Regions from separate parts of the Homo sapiens genome. Here region 1 is linked to region 2. The links come from fine-mapping of genetic effects on gene expression. A gene starts in region 2. The other region holds a variant in brackets. All regions are shown on one strand. Distances are between the middles of the regions.

Region 1 (11,999 bases), 32 kb after region 2:
AGTGACTGTTGTCTCTCTTCTGGGTCTAGCCACCCAGCAAGTCTGCCTGGCTCTGGGCTGGTACTGGCCATTGTCTGCACAGAGTCCTGTGATGTGAACCACCTATGGGTCGCTCAGCCATCGATATCAACACCTGTTCTGGTGGAGGTGGCAGTGGTATAAAATGGACTCTGTGACAGTTCTTAGCTTTGGTTGTTTAATGCTCTATTTTTGTGCTGGTTTGCCTCCTGCTGGGAGGTGGCACTTTCCAAAGAGCACCAGCTGTGGCAGTTTGGAGAGGAACCATTGGTGGGTGGGGCTGTAGAACTCCCAAGATTATAAGCCCTTTGTCTTCAGCTACCAGGGTGGGCAGGGAAGGAACATCAGGTGGGGGCAGGTCTAGGTATGTCTGAGCTCACACTCTCCTTGGGCAGGTCTTGCTATGGCTGCTGTGGGGGATGTGGGTGAGGTTCCCAGATGAATGGAGTTGGGTACCTAAGAGCATTATGGCTGCCTCTGCTGAGTCATGCTGGTTGTCAGGGCAGTGGGGGAAAGCTGGCAGTGACAGGCCTCACCCAGCTCCCACACAAACGAAAGAACCGGTCTCACTCCTACTGTGACCCCCCAACAGAACTGAGTCTGTTTCCAGCCAGTGGATGAACCAGGCTTGAGAACTTGCCCCAGGCTACGAGCCTCCAAACTGCAAAAGAAAAGGGCTTCGTTCTTTCCTGCCTGCAGAGTCTGCACACCTGATCTGTGCCCTGCCTCAAGTTCTGACCAGGAGGCTTCTCACCCAGTTCAAAGTGTCACAAAGTGCAGCTGGAGATTTCCTTCTCCCTTTGGTGTTTTCCCCCTCTCACCTGAGTGCCCTCCCAGTGGATCCCTGTGGTGCCAGGCAGGAATGGCCTGCCTGGGGTCCAGCAAGCTCCCAGGGTCTTTCCCGCTGCTTCCTCTATCCCTGTATTTTGCTCAGCTCTCTAAATTGACTCAGCTCCAGGAAATGTCAGAAACTTCTCCCACAAACAGACCTTCAGTTTCTCCAGTTGGGGTGGGGTATGTTTGGAAGAGGAGGATCTCTCTTTCCCATTTCCGAAGTTGGGGCACTCACAGTATTTGGGGTGTCTCCTGCCTCCTTCAGAGGGTCTGTGGGTACTCTTGGGATTTCTGGTTTGTTCTTGCAGTTGATCTGGAGCTAAAATTCATAATCGGAAATGGTATTGTATTTTGAATTTTAGTTACTGCCTGTTCATTGCTCTGAAGCAGTGTTTTTCTCCCCCCAACTTTTTTTCCTTTGTGCTTCAGATTGGATAATTGCCATCAATCTCTCTTCAAGTTCACTTAGTCTTACTTCTTTTGTTTCCATTCTGCTTTTAAGCCCAGTGAATTTTTTATTTCACATGCTGTGTATCTCAGTTTGATGAAGGCCAATTTATCACTCTACTGCTTTTAAAGTAGGCTCACAAAATCTAACCTAAGTGAGGTTTCACCTCTTGGTCTGAGGCTTTTTTTTTCCATTTTCCAATTAATAATAAGTTATGAGTAAATATTATTTATAATAAAAGACAAAGTCTATGCCACTGCTTTCCATTTTCAGGACTACCTATGGAAACCTTTGCTTTCCAGTCTGATGTTGACAGACCATTTTAACCAAAGCTGAATGAAAGTATTTGGGGTTTATAATAATTTTATTCCATCTTCTTATCCAAGTAAGGAAGCTCTCCACCATTCCTAGTTTGCTAAGGCTTTTTCTTTTTAAAATCACAGGTGTGAGCTGCATTTTATCTCAATCATCTATTGAGATGATTCCAGGAACTGTTTCATCCTTATTTATTAATAGTGGTGAATGATATTAACAGGCTCCCCACCGTGGCACTCCTGTGATAACTTCTTGGCAGTATGTACTGTTGGTTACCTGCTTGGCATCCAGTCTCCTTTTTGTCTTTTCTAACAAAACTCAACTTGTGCTCAGGTGTCTCTTCCACCCTCAGATGATTCATCGAAAGCTGACTGAATTCCCAGTGACAGGAGTAGACTGCCCTTCATCTTAGCCAGATATCACAAGGCTATTCCTGAGTGACTAAGGAAAGACTTATGTCCCATGATGTGGTAAGGCCCTATGGACATAAAACATAAAATACCTCTCCAGAGAAAAATATAGAATCAGAAATTATGATTTTATAGAAAATTCATATTTTTAATCAGTAGATTCCTTGGATAACTAAATTCATTGGACTAAGTATTATTTCCCAAATCAAATGTCATTATGTTGTACATTCTGTTTGTTAAACATCTGACACCTAAGCATATGACATCCTTTCTTTGTGCTATAAATTTTATTTTTGCCTATTGTGAGTATATATTACTCTTTATACTGAATTTTTAAAAAAATTAATAAAACAATTTATAAATATGGCAAATGTGAAGATTGGCAGTAGTTCATAAGTTGTATCAGCTTAATCTAAATGATTCAGCCGGGAGATTATTCATCTTTCTTGTTGGTTTCTGTTTTTCAAAAAGCTATAGTTTTGGGTTTATAAAAAAAGCACAGTGTAACTCCTGGTGGTTAAGATGAGATATTTTGTCAACTTCCTGCTGCAGGAGAACTTAATAATGAAATTATTCTTATAGCTCTCTAAAAATTTGGATATATTGAAATATTTTTCTTCATAATTCTTTAGTGTGCTTCTGTTGCTTCTCTGCTAAATATGAACAAGGACGCATATAGCCCCATATAATAGGAAAATAGGATATAGCAGTCATTTGAGGATAAGTGACTGCTACAATAAGATAAAAAAGGTATTGTCAACTCTGTCAATAAAGAAGATAGATTTTATTGCCTTCTCAAGTAACAGCTTCCCATGTAGGTAGGTAGCAGGTCAAGGCAAGAAGACAGCTTTGCTCCATGATGTCATCAAAGGACCTGGTTCCTTCTATGCCATTTCTCCATCAACTCAGGATGCTGTCTTTATCCACATAGGTGATGCCTCTACATTCCAGAACATGAAAGTATTCTGACATATCTTCCTTGGACATGACATATTTTTCTATGTATTGCTGGACTTTGTTTATTGTCACTTTAGGTAGGATTTTAATGTGTATGTTGTCCCTGAAGATTGGAATTCTTTCCCTACTTAAATTCTTTCCCTACTGTCCTTGTCCAGTTTTGGTATCAAGGGTGTCTAGTTTTAAATTCTCCAGTATAGTTTTATAGGATAAGGATTATTTATTGCTTTGGTATTCATGGAAAAGCCTGAGAACTTATTTAATGATTTTCCATTTCTTCTTGAGTCAGTTTTGGTACTTATAATTTTCTCTATGGTAAGCCCCTGCATATGTTTTAAATATATTGAGATAAGGTGATCACAGTATTTGCAAAATTCTAAAAATTTCTGTGATTATGTCCACTTTTTCATTTCTAATACCATTTCTTTGATTGTTTATTTCTCTTTTTTTCTGCTAAGCCATCTTTAGCATAACTTTCATCCTCATGATGCCAAGGTGGCTGTTTGCAGCGGACCCTATCCTTGTTGGACTGAACAAAGGATGACAAACATGGGAATAAAGACAAAGACAAAAGAGTATATTTGGAAGAAGAGGTCTGGGGGCTCCTTGCTTCCAGTGAACACAGGCCCTGAGCCTTTACAGCCCTTCGTATTTATTAGAGTGAATAGGGAGAAGGGGGGTGGTTGTCGGTCAGTAGCTTGATTTACAGCAGGCTTGCAAGACTGCATTCGTCAACCAATAGGCTCTAGATGTCCCATTAGATAACCTCAAGGAGCATGACACCAGGGAGTGATTGCCTTCAGCAAACCTTCTGGTGGCTGGAGCAGAAGCGACTTTGCCCACATTCTGCATTCATGATAAACAGTTTGCTGTTTGATCATATAGCCTCCAGTGGAATGTTGAGTTGGCCACGATCCCTTTGCCAGCTCTCTACAGCTGTTCTACCTGTTGACATCCTGTGTCATACCCAAGCAGGAAGAAGGTTGTGTGAGATGACAAAAGGCCAGAGTTACATGCCAGCTGTGTCTCTTTCCACACATCCACCAAACCCCCAGCAAATGTGTACTTAAAATTCATTGGTTACAGAGCCACTACTCCTTACAAGGAGACTGGGGAGGTGAGTATTATAAGCTGGGCAGATGGCCACTTGAAGAGCATCAATGTTCTGCTGTGGAAGGAGTGCAAAATAGACACCAGAGAGACCATTAGCAGTGTCTGCCACAGCTATTACATGGCTAGGTCCACCTGACTGAAACTAAGCCTTTTCTATGAGACTGAAGTGCTTTGAGAGAAATGCTGACCTTGTCCTTTCTGCAGCTTGCGGCTTTCAGTCACCCTTGGATTCAGAGATAGAAGTCATCTTAATTCCATCACTGAGGCCAGGAGACCTGAAAGAAATCAATTCAAGAGTAAGGAGACCAGGCGTGCAGTGTGACTGGGCGTGCAGAGGTCAGTGCATCTGTGATGACTGGTGTAACAGCATCACTGCCTGTGAGCCAGCAAGGCCCTTGGCTCCCAGGATGAAGCTCTCCAGTTCTGATAAGGCCCCTGGGGGAGAGACCGGTCCTAAACATGTTCAAGAATAAATCCATCAGCTAACTTCAGACCGTGATTCACACAGGAAGGGAACTTTAAGAGGTCGCCAGGGCTGGTATTTTTGAGACGTTAGGCAGCCCTCTCTGAGGCGATGACAAGTGAATGGCATAAAGGAGCCAGCCCAGACGAAAATTTGGGGTTAGACTATTTCGACCCAGGACGTGCAAATACATAGGTTACAAAATGGAAAATGGTATTTTGGAGGATGGGAGGCCCGTGTAGCCAGAGATAATGGGAGAAGGTGAGGGGGCACCCAAAACAATCCCACAAGCTCTCTACATCCCCCTTCCTAGCCCACACACATCACCCATCAGAGTGATCCTCCGGACTCCGGAGGCCCCCAAGATTGCCTTTCCCTTCCCGGTCGGCAGTGACGCTCCCGCAAGGAGCTGACGCCCAGGCCCTTAGCACCTGTCACAGCCAAGCACCCTTTTACTCCGGCCCTGCGGTCCCACCCCTCGCCGCAAGCCCCGCCTCACCCGGTCTGCCGCTGCGCCTGCGCGACTCCCAGAAGCCTTTGGGGGGTGGGTGTGTAGTCAGAGCGGCCTCTGCTTCCGGCCACACCCAGGCCCAGCGTTGGCCACCACTTATGCGGCGGCTGCGGTCCAGGGACAAGTGAGAGCGACCCGCAGAGGGCAGGACGGACGGGCGTTGCATAGGCCCGGGGCCAAACCGTATCTTGCAACCTGAGCTCCGAGGGCCGCCGCATCCGTCCCTGCTTGGGACTACGCTTCCCAGCGGGCATTGCGCCGAGGCCACGCCCGGTTCCGGCGGCGCTGCCTGCGCACTGGAAGTGGGAAGCGCCGGGCTTCTCTAGGCTGAGGGGCGGGGCGGGGCGGGGCGGGGCGGGGCGGGGCGGGGCGGGGCGGGGCGGGGCGGGGCGGGGCAGCGGGGAGGGGTGGGGAGGGGCGGGGCGCGGCCGGGGGCGGGGCGGCTCCGCGGCGCGGCCCAGTGGATGCCGGGCCATGGGGGAGCGCGCGCGGGGCTGTTCGCTGGGCGTGGCGGGCGGGTGTGGCCAGGGGTGTGGGTCTGTGAGGGACCGGTCGGAAGGGCGTCGCGCGGCCTCGGGTGACATGCGGGGGGCGGCGAGCGCGAGTGTCCGCGAGCCGACGCCGCTCCCGGGTAGAGGCGCCCCCCGCACAAAGCCCCGGGCGGGCCGAGGCCCGACTGTAGGGACTCCAGCCACCTTGGCCCTCCCTGCCCGGGGAAGGCCGCGCTCAAGGAATGGCCTCGCATCCAAAGGCCAGCGAGGAGCGGCCCCTACGGGGCCTGGGCACAGAGGTGAGAGTGACAGGTGTTTGGGGCCGAGCGGACAGGGACGAATTCATCTCGGGATGAGATCTGGGAGGGGGTTGGGCTCTCGGGGACCAGTTGCTGGAGAACTGTGCCCCTGGTCTTTGAAGCTGGTGGAGTGGGAGAATCTGAAGATTTGGAAGCTCAACTGATTCAGAGCAGCAAGCCGCGGTAAAAGGGTGTTGACTTTCCCAGGGTGACTCTAACTAGAC[G/A]CTTTTCCTGTTTTCGTGCTCCCAGGGAGGAAAAAAACCTATCTCCACGTTGTGGCAGTCCCTAGGCAGGGTAATGATCTGATCCCACCTTTTCATGCAGGAAGGGACGTTTCTAGGCTGGTGATTTGGGACTGTGGTGTAGACCTGGTCTCTAGCTACTCCTTTCTCTTTCAGCTCTGCCTTCCAGGGACACTGCTCTTCCCCAGGAGAGAAACAAGAAGCTGGAGGCTGTGGGGACAGGAATTGAACCTAAAGCCATGTCCCAGGTGAGTTGGCATTTCATCTCTTGTCTCTGAAATGCAGTCTTGCTTTTCGGGACTTAATGTTGCTTATTTTCTTGAAAGTTTTCAGTTTAAGAGACCTGTTTGGGCGCGGGTTTCTATTTCTTCACGTTCTAGTGAAGTGATGGGCTACGGGGAAAAGTTTAAACTGCCCGGGGCCTCGATGCCTGCTTCTTCTTCATCCCAATCAGCCTTCATTCTTGATTGATGAAATGATTCAGCCTCTCCCTTGTACCGCTTTTCTCAGAGGGACTCTGATGGAGGAATTGTGCCCCTTGAGGAACACGGCAGACTCTTCTGCTATACATGGTTTGTTTGGTGACCACTTTGTGCCAGCCACTGAGCAAACCAATAGCTAAGCCCTAGTCCCTGCTCTGGAGCTCACAGCCTGTTGACCCAATGTCAAGGAAACAAGCAAGATTCTAGAATGTGATCATCCTTGGGCCAAGTATTATGAGCGAGGACTACAAGGCGCTCCTGGCTTCCAGCCTCCTGTAGCGGAAGGGTAGGCCTATTTACCAAGGAGGTGATTTTTGAGCCTTGCCTTGAAGGGAGAGAAGATGTTTGGGAGGCACAGTAAAGAAAGACAACATTTTAGGGAGAGGAGGCGCAATATGAAAGGCTTTTCCACTTGATTTTGTGGCTTTAAAACATGCCAGTAAATAGTTGTGTTTGTTTCGGTTGGCTTCTCCTATAAATATCATAGCTAGCTCATTAATAGATGAACCATTTCACTTCCACTGAGGCCTCAAAAAATATATGTACAGATGAACCAGCTTCCAGTTGTCCTACCCAAACTGCTCTTGAGTGGGTTACTGTGATCTTCACATTACCAGATGCAGTGCTCAATTCTTAGTCTTTTTTGACTATCATTGGTATTTGAAATAGCTCAGAGGCTGGCAAACTTGTGCTGGATGAGGCCACAGCAGAAAATATGTTAGGCTTTGAAAGTCCTGCTGCATCTACTCCTTTCTGCTCTTATAGAGCTAAAGTAGCCAAAGACAATATGTAAATGAATGGATGGGCTGTGTTCCAGTAAAACTTCAGTTACAAAACAGGTGGCTACCTATCCCTCAAATAGCTCATCCCTGTCCTTCAATAGGCCCCCTTTTTTCCCTTGGCTACTGGGATCTCACACTCATCTGACTTTCATCTTCCTGACTGCTCAGTTTTTGCCACAGTTCTTACCTCCGTGACTTGAACAGAGTGTGCCTCAGCACTCTGCTCATGGCCCTTTCTTTTTTTGTCTGCATGCTGTCTCCTGGGGATAGTAGCCTGTTCCTTGTCTGTACAACCTACCCACATGGTGGCTCCTCCCAGATTCACATTGTGAGCCCAAACCTCTCCTCTGAGCCGCCGGCCTGTGTATCCTGCTCCACTCCTCTGCCTGAGTGTCTGATGGGTAACTCAAGACAGCCTGTCCAGACCCGAAGTCCTGAGAGTCTCCCATAAACCAGCTCCTCCCACAGTTTGAGTCTTAGTCAGTGGCCGTTTCATCCTCTCAGTTACTCAGTCCGGAAGCCTTGTCATGATTGGCTCATTTCTTGCCTTTTCCTTCCATATTTGGTCCTGATGCAAATCCTGTCAGTTCTATTTGCAAATTATGTGCAGAATCTGGCAGTTTTCATCACATCTATCACCAGCAGCAGGTCCAAGTCCTCCTTTTACTGTGGGCTTCTTGACTGTGCTTCTGTGACCTCCTGCTTCTGCTCACGCTCCCCACAGCCCCTTCCCGATGAGCAGCCAGAGGGGTCTATTCAAACATGTCACCTTGTGTCACGCTGTGCTCAGGACCCTCCAGTGGTTTCTCTGAATAAAAGCCAAAACTCTTCCTGTTACTGACCAGGCCCTACATGACCTGGCTCCTTGTTACCCCTGACATCTACATCACTCTCTTCTTTCTGAAAAATCGCCTTCTCATTTTCCTGCTCACCCTGTCTAGAATTTCAGAGCCTCCTACCTGTTCTTCACATCCCTCTTCCCTGCTTTGCTTTTTTCTTTTAGTACTTTTCTTTTGAGACAGAGTTTTGCTCTGTCACTCAGGCTGGAGTACAGTGGCGTGATCTCGGCTCACTGCAACCTCCGCCTCCTGAGTTGAAATGATTCTCCTTCCTCAGCCTCCCGAGTAGCCACCACACCTGGCTAATTTTTTTTTTTTTTTTTTTTTTTTTTTTTTTTAGAGACAGGGTTTCACCATGTTGGCCAGGCTGGTCTCGATTTCCTGACCTCAAGTGATCCGCCCACCTCAGCCTCCCAAAGTGCTGGGATTACAGCCATGAGCCACTGTGCCTGGCCCTCGTAGTACTTTTCAACATACTATATACAGAAATCCCACGTATACCAAAATTTGCACTTATTCATCAGCCATGTGGAGCCTGCAGATATGAGAAGTCAGCCCTCAGTGGACACAGGTTTTCCATACCACAAATAATCTTTTTTGAGACAAGGTCTCACTCTGTCACCCAGGCTGGAGTGCAGTGGTGCCATCACGGCTCACTGCAGCCTTGACCTCCCCAGGCTCAAGCAGTGCTCCCATCTCAGCCTCCGAAGTAGCTGGAATTACAGGCATGTGCCACCATGCCCAGCTAATTTTTGTATTTTTTGTAGAGATGGGGTTTTGCCATGTTTCCCAGGCTGGTCTCGAACTCCTGGCCTCAGGCAACCGCCCGCCTTGGGCTACCAAATTGCTGCGATTAGAGGTGTGATTCCCCGCGCCCAGACAATAATTGTATTTTCAGTCTGCATTTGGTTGAAAAAATTTGCATATAGGTGGACCCTTGCAGCCCAGATCCATGTTGTTCGAAGGTCAAATGTATTTTACTTAATTTATCTCAGTTTCTCTTGTCTCATTTCCTTACTTCATAGGCAAGGATTTGGGGCAGTTTTGCCTAATGTCTGATACAGAAAATATTTGGTGGATGAATGTTTGAATATAGTCTTAAAGTTCTCTTGTGGCCAGTGTTTTGATATTTAGTATAGTGTTAGAATAGTCATTTTTATACCTGAAAATGTGCTTCGTCCCTGATTTTTTTATTTTGTTTTTTTGCTTTTAGAGACAGGGTCTCACTCTGTCACCTAGGCTGGAGTACAGTGGCACAGTCATAGATAATTGCAGCCTCAAACTCCGGGCCTCAAGCAATCCTCCCACCTTGGCTTCCAAAGGAGCTGGAATTGTAGGTGTGAGCCACCATGCCCAGCCCCTGATTATTTTGTATGAATACATTCCTAGAAGTTTTTCTTGCCTCATGGATTAAGGTTTCCTAAGCTTATGTGAAATCGGAATACTTCTAAAATTATTTTTGGATAGAACAGCAGTGGTGCCTCAAAAGCTAGAATTCATGTTTTGAAAAAAATGTACACTTCATCAGGAATAATAGTTATTACCAAATAAATGTTTATTTGTATGTTTTAAAAATTAACTGAATTGAATTTAAACAAATCTTTTTAGTGTATTTTTTCTATAAAGTACTTCATATTCATTCTTTTCTATGAAATTTCAACAGAAAGATTTTTCTGTAAGTATAAAGTTGCTTTTATTTTTTGTTGGTATTCTTTTAATGTCTCTATCTTTGTGTGTGTGCGTGTGTTTATATATTATATAGAATATATTATATATGTATATTTTATATATATATTAATATATGTATATTATATATATATGTATATATAATTTTTTTAAGAGATGGGAGTCTCACTGTTTTGCCCAGACTGGAGTATATTGGCTATTTTCAGGCACAGTTATGGTGTACTACAGCCTCAAACTCCTGGGCTCAAGGAATTCTCCTGCCTCAGCCTTCTGAGTGGCTGGGCCTATAGGCGTGTGCCACCATACCCAGTTCATATGTATATTAAGATGAGTTAACTTACATCAGATGCCTATATCAGGAGTAGATTCTGTGCCTGTATAATGTTTTCTCTGTGGTATAGTGTAAAAATGTGAAACCCATTTTGAAGTCTGCATATTTATGTTGCAGCAACAGGAATAAGAACAGGACCTGCACATTTGACAATGTTTTGTCTCCACCTAAATTAAGTAGGTTGATCCAGACATCAGTTAGGGAAAGTTCATTTTATTTTTATCTGAAAACATGTTTTCTACTGGAACTTGTTTCACTGTCAGGGTGAATGGATACTAAGTATTACTGCTATTATCAAAGTGGAACCTTTTAATAGAAGTAGAATGGCAAAGTGGTCAAAGGTCATGGACTAGGTTCACATGCTAGCCCTAGCATCTAATCATTGCGTAACCTTCAGGCAACTCAAGTGACCACATTTTCTTCATCTGTAAAATGAGGAAAATAATTGGACCTGCCTCAAGCAGTTCTTGTAAGGATTAAGTTAAGATGTGTATAGTGCCTGGATTGAGGTACCTGGCACATAGTAAGGACTTACTAGTGTTAGCTGGCAGCATCCTCATGTCATCATGACGGTTTTAGAAATTTACAGGCAAGACACTTAGATGGCGTACTTCAAAAAAAGTGTTTAATATAGGACCGAACTGGGCAAATTATGGCCTATAGGCCAAATCCAGCCCACCACCACCTCCTTTTGTGTGGCCCACCAGCTACAAATGAGTTCTACATTTTTCAGTGGTTGAAAAAAATCAAAAGAAGAAGAATACATGAAAATTAAATGAAAGTCACATTTTGGTGTCCATAAAAAAAATTTCATTGTAGCACAACATACTTGTTTGTTTATGTATTATCTATGACTGCTTTTGTGCTACAGTGGCAAAATTGAAGAGTTGCGGCCAAGGCTATTTGGCCCACAAAGCCTAAAATATTTACTTTCTGGCTCTTTACAGAAAAACTTTGCTGACACCTGAAGTGGAGGTTAAGAGCATGGACTGTGGAGTCAGACTCCTGGGTTCAAAACCCAGCTCTACAGCTGACTGTCTGTGATCCTGGGCACATTACAGCTCAATATTTTCTCATCTGTAAAATGGGAATAGTAATAGTACTGACTATTAGGATCGTTGTGAGGATTAAATAAGCTAATATATAAGTATATAGAATTGCGTCTGAAGTGTTGTAAGTGCTTTCAGCTATTGTTATTGCTGTTATTTACAGTAAAAGACATTTTTAAAACAAAAGTCATTGATTCTATACATAAAGAGCTGTCCGAATAAACAGAAAATGTCTTAGGAGGATATATGTATATTGCTAACGTTGGGTCCCTCTACGTGATTACATTGAAGGCATTTAACAAACCACTGGTACAAAAGCAGATCACTAATGCATAGCATGATCAACCTGGGAAACTAGGGTTGATTCTTCTTGGCAAGCAAATAAGTTCCTCTTCTTTTATGCCAAGATGCTTCAACTTGCAAAATTATTGCTGAGAGCTGACCAGCATTTGTTTTAGACTAGCTTCCTCAGGTAGCCATATTAGTGTGTCTTTTGCTCAAGGACATTAAGCAGTTCTTGGCTGTTTCCTGCAAGTATTACCTCATGGTTTACACTGCAGGGGGCCTTTCAGTCCCCAGCTTAGGAGACTTCTCCATGATGAGTTTACCATCAAGAGTGTAGCTCTGCAGTTGACTGATTCAACTCCCTCTGCAGTTGATATTCACTCAAATTGGGATATCACTTACAAAACCCTTTTGACCTATTTTTACACAATTCAGTTACAAATG
Region 2 (11,999 bases):
CTAATGTTGTCTGCAACTCAGGGTTTGGAATAATCCAATAGGAGCTCTGATTGTGGACATGATCTAACGTTCTAATAACCAAGTGATGTGTTCAACCTGATATAGATAATAAACTCCAAGACCTTCAAAAACCAAAAGGAAGACTTTTTTTTCATCTTACACTGAAGATACCACATTATTTTTATGCATGGAAGGGGTCTCAGCACTATTTCAATGAATACAGTCCCAATCCCCATTTGAAAAATAAGAAAACTGAGGCTCATAGAAGTTATGTCATCTTTCTGCCGAAAAACAGCTATTAAAAAGTTGGATAGTCACTGTTTGAATGCAGACACTTGGAGCTCTGAAAGGAGAGCATTTATGCAGGAACATGCAAGATCATGGACCTTGGGGCCATGCCATGCTGCTATACCAAAATTGAAGTAGTTAAAAATATGGATACTCCATGGGTTCATAGGGGAACCTCGCAAGATGCTGGAGACTTGGATAAGCTGACAAAACTAGAACACGTTTTAAATTTGGGGGCGGGAGCATTACAGCCTTTAAAATATCTTTTATAAAAATTCCACTCCCAAAATCTGAGAGTACTTGTCAGAAACAGTATTTTTTTAAACTCGGAATACAGGTTAAAATCCAAGCTCCTTAATTCTGTATTTAAGGCTGTCCATGATATCGACCATGCAGACGTTAGTAGCTTCATGTCTTGACCACACCTGACTCCCAACCCTGACTCCAAGCTGTGCCAGCTCTGCTCTCCCTGTGCAGTCTTCTGGGTTGTCCTCTGTCTTGGTTCATTGGTAGAATAGTCACAAACTTTGTTCCATACCTTAATCTTTTTAAGTTAACAGGGGATCCTAGAGGCCACTCTGCAGTGGTGTGGCAGTATTCCTTATTCTTGTTGTAAGTTGGGTGCTGTTCCAGGATATTGTCGGTGGGAATTTTGGTTCTTTTTTGCTATTACAAATAAGAAACATTTGAATAGTTTTGTAAATCTACCTTTTTCGTGGTTTTGCTTGTATACTTTTTTCACTGGAGAAGGGGGAATTCTGCATGAAAATGTAAATTTTAAGTGTTAGAATGTGAGGATTTGCAAACTTATCTTACACAGACTTGTGTCATTTTCCTTCTAACCGCCAACATATGAGCATACCTGTCTACCCAGGGTCTCTCCACTAGAGTGATCTGAATAATTTGAATGCTAGCTGTGTGGTAGGAAGGAGCCTCCCCACCGCTCTCAACACCAAAGATGTCCATGTCTTAATCTCAAAATCTGTTCATTTGTTACTTTTCATGGCAAAAATGACTTTGCCAATGTGATTAAAGGATCTTCAAACAGGGAGAGCACCATGGACTATTCAGGTGAAGGCACTGTAATCACATGGGTCATTATAGGAGGGAGGCTGAAGTGTAAGAAGCAAAGGAGACCTGATGACAAGAGAGATGCAGCCTTGTGACAAGAAATGAGGGCAGCCTGTAGAACAGGAGTCCCCAACCCCTGGGCCGCAGACCGGTACCAGTCTGTGACCTGTTAGAAACTAGGCCACACAGAAGGAGTTGAGCAGCGAGCAAACGTCACCGCCTGAGCTCTGCTTCCTGTGAGATGAGTGGCAGCATATTCTCACCGGAGCGTGAACCCTATTGTGAACTGCGCATGTGAGGGATCTAGGTTGAACGCTTCTTATGAGAATCTAACTAATGCTTGATGACCTGAAGTGGAACAGTTTCACCTTGAAACCATTGCCCCATCCATCTTCCAGAAATCCCATCCCTGGTGCCAAAATGGTTGAGGACCACTGCTCTTGAAGCCAGCAAAGGCAAGAAGTAGATTCTCTCCTGGAGCCTCAGGAATGGCAGGCAGCTAGGCCCAGACATTAATTTTAGCTCATAAAGTATATTTTGGAATTCTGAACTACACAACATAATTTTTTTGTTTTGTTTTGCTTTAACTGCTATGTTTATGGTAATTTGTTACAGCGGAGATAAAAAAATGAATACACTTCTCAGTATGATAGGTAAGAAATGGTATCTCAGTGTAGTGTGAATTACACTCCTCTTATTTTGAATGTCATAAGTTATCTTTTTTAATGTTCATAGTACTTAGAATAATTTGTATGGACAAAGCACGTTGACTGAGCTTCTGTTGCTAACTGGAGGTATCGGATATTTAACAACACTTAGAAGTTTGGATGGCAACATTCATTTAAACTGTGAGACAGTAATACCTGTTGAGGTGCAGAAACTCCACTACCCCTTCAAGAATCCTTTTTTTTTTTTTGAGACAGAGTTTTGCTCTTGCTGCCCAGGCTGGAGTTCAGTGGCGTGATCTCGGCTCACCACAACCTCCGCCTCCCAGATTCAAGCGATTCTCCCGCCTCAGCCTCCCATAGCTGGGATTACAGGCATGAGCCACCACGCCCGGCTAATTTTGTATTTTTAGTAGAGACAGGGTTTCTCCATGTTGGTCAGGCTGGTCTCGAACTCCCGACCTCAGGTGATCCTCCTGCCTCAGCCTCCCAAAGTGCTGGGATTACAGGCGTGAGCCACTGCACCTGGAAGAATCCATTTTTTTTTTGAGACAGGGTCTTGCTCTGTTGCCTGGGCTGGAGTGCAGTGGTGTGACTATGGCTCACTGCAGCCTTGAATTCCTGGGCTCTAGCAATCCTCCCACTTCAGCCACCTGAGCAGCTGGGACTACAGGCATGGGCCAGCATGTCCAGCTAATTTTTTTGATTTTTAGAAGAGACGAGGTCTTACCATTTTGCCCAGGCCAGTCTCAAACTCCTGAGCTGAAGCAGTCCTCCCAGCTCGACCTCCCGAAGTGCTAGGATTACAGGTGTGAGCCACTGCACCTGGCCAAGAACCCATATTTAGAGTCAGACTCACCATATCCTTGAAGAAACCATTCCAAATATTATTTAAATGACTCCGTATTTTTGACCATCCTCATTCTCCAGAAATAATAACCAAAAGTAACTATATCTCTGGGATTTCTCACTAGGTAAACAATCTTAAATGAAAAAGAGAGATAATAAGAATAAATGTATCCATTCTTCTTGCTTCAAGATTCTTGCAAAAGGCAAAAAACATCAAACTCCCATTAAAGTTTTGGCTATAGCTTGTCCTTCTTTAATTCATTCATTTAACAAAATGTATTGATAACCCACTATGTGCTTGACATCTACTTAGACACTGTAGAAGGAACAGAGGACAAGATACGGGTCATTTCTGCCCTGAAGAACATTATAATATAAGGCAGGGAAGAGGCTAACTAATGTTTGGACAATCAAATGATGTTACTACACTTGGGCACCACTGTTTAAGAATCCCTGGGCTGTAAATCAGGAACTGTGAGTTTGTTGGGATTCTGCCAGAGACTCTGACTCAGTGCTACTCCAGGAATTTTATCTTTCAGACCTCTCTTTCTTTTTGTAGGAATTCCTACTCTATCCCATATAAGCAAATCTCAGGGACTAAGCAAGTAGATGTTAGCAGTCAACCATATGTAAGATTCTTTTATAAAATTCAACATGATGGCGTGAATAAACTCACTATGCTACCACTGGTTGTGAAACCTGAAGAGATTAAACAAACTTTGCATTTTCTCAAAACAAACAAAAAAGAGTTTGTTAGAATTAATAAAGCTGACCCCAAGCTAGGATAAGTTGGATCCAGTGTCATACAAGGCCATTTCCAATTCTAAACAAATAACGTTGACCACATGGAGCCTGTGGGGAAAACTGGTCAACTCTCACCTGAAGTTCCAAAAGTTGAGAATATCATATTCTGTCCCAGAAATTAATTTGTAATCCAAATTCACCTGGTCACCAACACTGTTGTTAAATTTGATATTCTTCAGAAAGGAGTTAAGCTTAAAAATAGTGCACTGTTACAGGATGGAAAGAGTTCTGAATTTGGAAAGAAGAAACTTGAATTAGAGTAATACCTTTGAAACTTATTAGATGTGTGGCTTTGGAAAAAGTCCCTTATTGTTTAAATCTTCAACTGTAAAGTTAGTTATTCAATTTTATTTTTACAAGAATTATGTGAGATAATACCTTTGATGGCCCATGAACAAAAATGTGGTATATATAAAGTAAAAATTAGATAAAGAAAACATTATATATGTAATGTAATGATAATTTAATATATAGTATGATAATGGAAATACCCCTTACTTCCTTGGTGGGATGAATGAGGACAGAAGAATCAAAATAATCTCTTGTTATTGGTTGAATTTTGTCTGCCCCAAATTTTGCATGTTGAAGTCCTAACTCCCAGTACCTCAGAATGTGACTGTATTTGGATATAGGATTTTTACAGAGTTAATTAAGTTGAAATGAGGTCGTTAGGGTGGGTCCTAATGCAATCTGACTAGTCTCACCATGTCTCCATGGGTTTTCTCTGGGTACTCCAGATTCCTCCCACATCCCAAAGATGTGCACAGTAAGTTAACTGGTATGTCTAAGTTGTCCCAGTCTGAGTGAGTGTGGGTGTGTAGTAGGCTACACAATCTAGGTTTGTGTAAGTACACTCTATGATGTTTGCACAACAAGGTTCTTAGGAAATTGCCTAAGAACCCATTTCTCAGAATGTATCTCCATCCTTTAGCGATGTAGACTGTATTTCCATACTGTAAATAGTCCCCTTGTGGTGGATTTCAATCTACCAATATGACATCACTGAATGTGGAGTTAGAAAGAAAGGTACAGTTCATGGCTCTCAGTTCCTACAGCTCTTTTAATTTCCTAAATGACTGCAGCAATAAAGTATCTTTTGTTAAAATATCTGGCCTTTTGTTCCTGGTTCCTGAAAAAGCTCCAGAACAGCTCCAGAGCCATAAAGGTGAAAGACAGTATTTCAACCACACATGAGTTTATGTTAATGAGGTGATTTTTGGAAACTCTCAAGATAATCCCAATATTTGGGGGGAGTGGTGGCTAGTTGCCAGAGGAACCAGCCATGTGCTCAGAGGACTGGAACTCACAGCTCCACCCTCTACTTCTGGGAAAAGAGAGAGCCTGAAAATTAAGTTGATCGCCAGTGGCCAATGATTTAATCAATCACATCTACATAATGAAACCTTGAAAACCGAAAAGGCCTGAGTTCAAGCGGCTTCCAAGAAGGTAGACAAAAACACATCCTCGTGCTGGGAGGGTGGTGCACCCCAACTCCACGGGCACAGAAGTTCCTGCACTAGGGATTCTCTCGGACCTTGCCCTACATGTCTCTTCATCTGGCTATTTGTATCCTTTAAAATATCTTTTATAATAAACCAGTAAACATAAGTGTTTCCTTGAGTTCTGTGAGCTGCTCTAGCAAACTAATGGAACCCAAGGAGCCGGCTGTGGGAGCCCCAATTTATAGCACATCTCTCTGAAACACAGGTACAACAATCTGGAGTTTGGAATTGGCATGGGAAGTGGGGGACAGTCTTTTGGGACTGAGCTGTCTAACCTGTAGGATCTGATGTTTTCCAGGTAGCGTCAGAATTGAATTGGAGTAGCGGTCACCTGGCTGGTGTCTGCTGCAGACAGGTTTTTTTGACATGTTAAGACATTATAAGAGACAATAGAAAAAATGTATACGATACAACCTTCTCTGAGTTATATTTCTCCATAGCCCTTTTTACTGTTCATCAGACTGTTTATCTAACTCATGAATTTGTGGCTTGTCTCTCTCCGCTTCAAAGTAAATTACATAATAAGAGGACAGGGATTTTTTTTTCTCTGCTGTATCCCCCTGAATTGCTTTTCCTTATTTGTCTCACCTTCCAATACTAATTCTACAGTTCTCCTAGTCAGGGCTAGTCCCCTAAAACGGGGACCATTTCCATTTTGTTAAGGGGCTGAACGCGGTTCAAGCCTAGCAGATTGGTTCCAAAAACGTCGTGTTATTCACTGCCTCTGATCAGTGACATTCCCATTTGCAGCTGAAAGAGGTATTAATTCGCCAGAGTCACAACACGGTCGGGGTTCCTCGTCGCTGTCTTATTCCAAAATAAGCTTAACACAGAAAGATAATGACACTCCCACGGACTGGCACAGAAGGCCGCGCTCCGAATGACATCGCGATCACAGAGGCACAGACAGCGTCACAAAGCCCCACGCGTACTCACACCGAAGGCTCAGCCGTCGCGCGTTTCCCTCCCAGGCCCCAGGAACTAGTAACTAGGGACGCTTCTGGTCTCTAGGCGAGGAGAGGGGGAGAGCGCAATCTTTGCGCCTGCGCACACTCCTGCTCTTACCCGCCGGAACCCTGGGCCACGCCCGGCTCGCGTAATCACGCACTGCGCAGGCACCGCCCGCTCTGCTCTAAGGTCCCTCTCACTCCTTCAGCAGCCCGAGGACAATCCCCTCAACACTAGGCCACGCCTTGTCTCCGCCCCTCTCGTCCGACCCCTGGAGAGAGGCTGGCGCCTGCGCGATGGGGGGTTCCAGCGTCGACTCACGGAGTCCTTCGGATGAGAGCGTCTGGGTGCCAGACGAGGCCGGGGGTTTGTTTTGGGTGGTTTGGGAGTCCGAGCTCGAGGGCTGGGCCAGGAAGGGCAGGCGAGGCGGGCGGCTCCGACGCGGGTCGCGAAGGCCCAGCCGCGTCCTCTGTCCCCAGGACGACTACATTTCCCAGAGGCCAGCGGGGCGCGCGTACTCGAGTCTGCGGGGCGGAGGCCGCGGCTCGGGGCTGCTGGGCGTTCGGGGCGGCTTGGGGCGGCGGGACCACTGGAGTGAGCTGTGGGAGAGATGGGGGTGTGCCTGTGTGTAAAAGATCTGTCAGAGTGTGAGGCTCCGTGAGAGGGTGTGGTTTCTGTGTGTGTGTGTGTGTGTGTGTGACAGACCGAGAGTCCAGTGTGAGACCAGGGTATGTTCGTGTGTGACAGAGCGAGACGGGCCAGTGTGAGAGACCAGTGAGTGTGAGAGAGATAGGGATGTGCCTGCATTTGAAAGAGAGCGTGTGAAGCTCAGTGAGAGGTTGCGAGGTGTGTGGGTGTGTAAGTGTGTAACAGACCAGGTGTCCAGAGCGTGAGACCAGGATGTATTCGTGTGAGAGAGTGAGACGGGCTGGATGGAGTGTGAGAGACCAGTGAGTGTGAGAGATGGGCGTGTGCCTGTGTGTGAAAGGCCGGTCGGTCGGTGGGTGAGGCTCAATGAGAGGCCGGTGTGTGTTCGAGAGAGAGAAGAATCACCATGTATGCGAGACTAGACTGTGCAAGAACAGAGTGTGAGACTGTGGTATGTTAATGTGTGAAAGGGAGACCAGTGAGTGTGAGAAATGGGTGTTTTGGGTGAAAGACCCGTCAGTGTGTGAGGCCGTGTTATGTGTGTCTGACAGACTGAGAGAGACCAGAGTGTGAGACCAGGGTGTGTTCGTGTGTGAGAGACAACATAGCGTGAGACCAGTGAGTGTGAGAGAGATGAGCACGTGGCTGTGTGTGAAAGACCAGTCATTATGTGAGGCTCCTTGAGAGGCTGGTGTGTGTGTATGAGAGAGAGAAAGAGACTAAACTGTGAGAGTCCAAAGAGTGAGACTAGGTTATGTTGTTATGAGTTTGTGAGAGAGAGGGAGGCGATCAAAGTATAGGACAAAGTTATGTTTCCTGGCTTACGACTTCTAAGATCCTTGGAATCTCCAAAGTATTAAGTGTCTTTTTGCATGCTAATGATTGGTGGGCTGGCAGCCTGTAGGTTGATCACGGTAAGGGATGGTCACAAGAACAATCTAGGCAGGATTAGAGGGTTGGGATTACCTGCCCCATCCCTCAATCTCCAGGGAAAGGAAAGGGAGCCACAGGTTAAACTGATCATCAGTGGTCAGTGATTTAACCAGTCATGCCTACATTATGAAGCTTCCATAAAAACCCAAAAGGACTGGGTTCATCAAACTTCCAGATAGCTGAACACTGGAGGTTCCTGTAGGATGAGCCCCTTCCTATATAACCTTGTCCTATGCATTTCTTCACCTGCATCCTTTGTAATATCCTTTATTACTACAAACGTGTTTCCCTAAGTTCTGTGAGCTGCCCTAGCAAATTAATTGAACGCAAGGAGGGGGTCATAGGAACCCCGATTTATAGCTAGTCAGAAGCACAAGTAAAACAACCTGGGGTTTGCAACTGGCATTGGAAGTGGGGAGCAATTTTGTAGGGCTGAGCCCTCAACCTGTGGGATCTTATGCTGTCTCCAGGTAGATAGTGTCAGAATTGGGTTGCCCTAGAGGTCACCCACCTGGTATTCACTGGGTTGCCCTAGAGGTCACCCACCTGGTATTCACTGAAGAACTTATTGCTTGCCTGGTGTGTGTGTGTGTGTGTGTGTGTGTGTGTGTGTGTGTGTAGATCCCCACACATCTGGTCTTAGAACTGTTTTGTGTTGTGTGAGTGGAGTAGGAGAAACAGTTTGTTTTTCCTCTTTGTCACCTGAGTGTGTTATCAGGGACTGGATTGTGAGAATCCAGAGTGTGAGACCAGGGTATATCAATGTGTGAGAGAAATAGATGTGCCTGTGTGAAAGATGAACAAGTATGAGGCTCCCTGGAGTCTGAGAAAGATCATGTGTGTGTCTGAGTAAAAGCAAGAGACTAGACTGAGAGTTCAGTGATTGGGAGAGACTGGGGTATGTTGGTGTGAGTGTGTGAGAGACCAATGGGTATGTGAGAGACTAGAGTATGTCTCTGTCTGGACTGGTAGGTTGTGAGAGGGTGTATCACAGTATGAAAAAGATTGGAGTGAGAGTGACCAGTATGTATTTTGTGTGCATGAGATAAAGCAGTTGGAATATGAGAGATCAGAGTGTGTTTGTGTATCTGTGTGAGACACTGGAGCATTTGAGTAACTGAGGCCTCTTTGAAAGATACCATTGAATGTGTATGTATGAGAGACCATCATGTTTATATGTGTGAAAGAGGGAGAGAAAGACTAGTGATGTGGTTGTGTGAGAGACCAAAATGGGTGAGAAAGAAACTATGTGAACCATGGTGTGTTATCCAAAAGGCTTTACAAATATAACCTCTGTGAGGTTGTGAAGCATGCATGTGTGAGTGAGACAGAGATAAGGGACAGTGAGCTGTGTGTGTGAGAGAAGTAAGATTGGGGGTATGTGTGAAGGTGTTGGTGAATCACCACGTGTGCTTATATTCATGTCCTCAGGCAATGGAAATGTGACTGTGTATATGTGCTTGTTTTGGGGTGCTTGTGATTGTGTCCTCCGTGTGACCATGAAACCTGTGTTAGTGTTTGTATGTCACCCTGTATACCCATAATTGTGGCCCTGTATGACTGCTGTGTATGGAGAGACTACTTGGAAGATTGATAGGATTGGATTCTTTATGAGTGTGGCTGTTTGGAATTGTGTGTTGCCGGGATAGGAAATGTGGAATAGAATTCCTGTCCCCAGTCCAAGGGTTTCAGTAAGAAGCAAAGCTGGGGTGACTGAAGCTCCTAACTGAAGCAGGAGACACCCTCACTTCTGTGTGACAGGAGGGTAATTAAGGGGCTGGGACAGAGGTGAGAGTGAAAGTGGCAGAATTGAGTGCTAAAGGTTCCATCGTTTCAGGGTGAGGAAAGTGAAACAGTGCCGGGGGGTGGGTCAGGGATGCAGTGGTGGGGATTGAGTGAAGAAGGAGGATAACCCTGGCCTCTGGTGGCATTTGGGAGTCAGATTTTCCTTTTTCTTTTGTTTTTTTTTTTTTCCCAAAAACCCCATCCATCTGGCCCAGAAAGGAGCCAGATTTTCAAACAGTAGACTTTCAAAGCATGAAGCAGAGACCCAAGAAGAGAATGACTCCACCTTTACCTGTAAAATGGAGGAAATGACTATTTTATAGGATTATTTGAAAAATAAAGTGAGATAATCTAATCTATGCAGAGTACCTAATGCATCTGAATGGGAAGGTAGCTCTTTGAAAAAGATTAAATTTAGGACCTCAAGCATGAAAAAAAAAAACCGTTATGAGTTTTAGCCCTTCAGTGGCCATAGGTTGCTCATACCCAGTTATGGGATCAACCAAAGCTGGGAAGAAGAAGACAGTTTTAGGCTAGTGATTCTGGGAGTGCAGCATCTCTGGCCTCATCTCTCTCTAACCTTTCCCTTCCTTCAGCCTTGCCCTCCCAAGACACTGTTCTTCAAGAGAAAGACCAGAAGAGAAGGCAAAAATGAATGTTGAAGTAGTAAAAGTCATGCCCCAGGTTAGTGGATATTTTCTTTCTCTTCATGAAAGGCAGTCTTGCTGTTTAGGACTTTTTGTAATGCTTCTTTTCTTTTGAAAATTCCCTGATTAACAGTCCAGGAGCCTAGTTCCCACTTCTCTCAGGGGCCACTGTCTTTAACTCTAATTACCTAATGAGTGAGTAATAGCTTAGTATAAAAAGTCATGGAGGTCCCTCTGAGATTCCTCTTCCCACCTTGTGTACATTTTAAATTTAGTGTTGACTCTTGTGAAAAGACTTGATTTATGTTGTGTGGAATATACATGTGGATATGTTAGTACTAGTGAGTTGGGCTCCAGGTTAAATGTGCATGCAGTGCGTTTCCTATATATAGAATGCATTAGGAATTATTCCTCTACCTGAAGTTTTCTCCAAATCTCTAATTATGTCCTTAAGATAAATTCTTTAAAAGTTTTTCTTTACATTTTAAGTATGAATTACCAACCTCATTCGTTCACCTGAAAAATCTTATTCTACTTAATTTTTGCAAATTTTATAAATTTAAATAGGTGAGAAGTTGACATGGTACAAAATTTACAAACAAATTTCACCCTTAACTCCCAGTTATTTTAAGAAGTTATTCTCACCATGTATCTCATTCAGAGCTATGTTATGCCTTTGCGTGTATACAAAAATACTTTCTTCCCTTCAAAGTTAATGATTTTTCGTGTCTTGTTGATGAAATTTTTGTCTACCTTTAGGTCCTATTTTTCTTCTAAGATTTGTTTTATCCTTCACAGTTAAGTTTCTGGTAAGCTTAGACTTGATTTTTGTGGTTTTCTATCATGGTAGGGCTGAAATTACATTAACTTTTTATGTTAAATTTAATTTACATTAGATTTTTACATTTAATTTACATTACATTTTTACATTACATGTATAATTTATAATAAGTGAGGCAGAGATTTATTTTTTCAAGTTGGCACAATGGCATTAATTGAATTATTCATCTCATTCTCACTAATTTGAAATGCCACCTATATCATGCACTAAATTCCTGTGTGTATTTGGTTCTGTTGCTGTACTACACTCAGTTTTACTTGAATTTCTGCTTTTAATCTTTTAATTTTTAAATATTATATTGCACATGTATAAGAAACAATGTATAAAAAGGAATCCTTAATTCTCCCACTGTGAAATTCCCCTCCTCACATTTTTTCTAAGTGGAAAATGTGTTTTCATGACATACATGAGTGTCAGATGTCCATAATTAATGCTTAATTAATTTATATGCTTCATATGGAAAGTTACGTTAAATTAATTTTGAAACACTGCTTTTTTTTCTTGTGCTGTCAGAGTTCATGAGATATTAAAAAACATTTACATGGATTCTGGGCATCTGTGTCTTCCTCAGCATTAAAACCATTTTGTGAGTTACCTAACATAATTTTCCAAAGATACAGACCTTTTAGTTTGTGTGCCTCATGTTGTCATTAAAATTCTACCTGAAGTCACAAGCACCATACACAACAGAATTAGTCCCCTCCAATTTGCCCTATAGAAGTAAGTTGGGATCTCCACAATACAACTTACTGTCTTTAGTTTTGATATTTAACCTCATACTCCTGAATAATGTTCCATACACTATTTCTTGATTATTTTAGTTTTAGAAATGATCCAGTAACCTACTACTATAGATGATAAAGATGCAGTCCATTAACCCCACCACCTGAAATGCACACACACATGCTTATTTGATAGACTGTAAACATTATTCACTATTTTTGTTTTAAGTCAGTGTTCAGCGTAGCTTGGTGTCTTTCATCAATTTGGAAATTTTTCAACCACAAATATTCTGAAA

Evidence for each region. PIP is the estimated chance that this variant, and not a neighbour inherited with it, causes the effect.
Region 1: its variant is fine-mapped to the expression of ZNF471 in esophagus muscle (GTEx, PIP above 0.99). The same link has a PIP of 0.9 or more in coronary artery.

What each region holds. Positions count from the first base shown.
Region 1 is chr19:56,533,368-56,545,366 of GRCh38, forward strand. It overlaps ZFP28 (ZFP28 zinc finger protein), which reads left to right and starts at 5,581. Exons shown (of 8, transcript NM_020828.2): 1 at 5,581-5,859; 2 at 6,258-6,349. The coding sequence starts at 5,652. ZFP28-DT (ZFP28 divergent transcript) reads right to left here and starts at 5,367. Exons shown (of 3, transcript NR_183967.1): 1 at 5,058-5,367; 2 at 4,284-4,370; 3 at 2,789-2,965. The variant G/A (reference allele first, on the strand shown) is at 6,084.
Region 2 is chr19:56,501,428-56,513,426 of GRCh38, forward strand. It overlaps ZNF471 (zinc finger protein 471), which reads left to right and starts at 6,428. Exons shown (of 5, transcript NM_020813.4): 1 at 6,428-6,493; 2 at 10,090-10,177. The coding sequence starts at 10,145. It overlaps LOC124904776 (a long non-coding RNA gene), which reads right to left and starts at 2,323. Exons shown (of 3, transcript XR_007067352.1): 1 at 2,223-2,323; 2 at 997-1,046.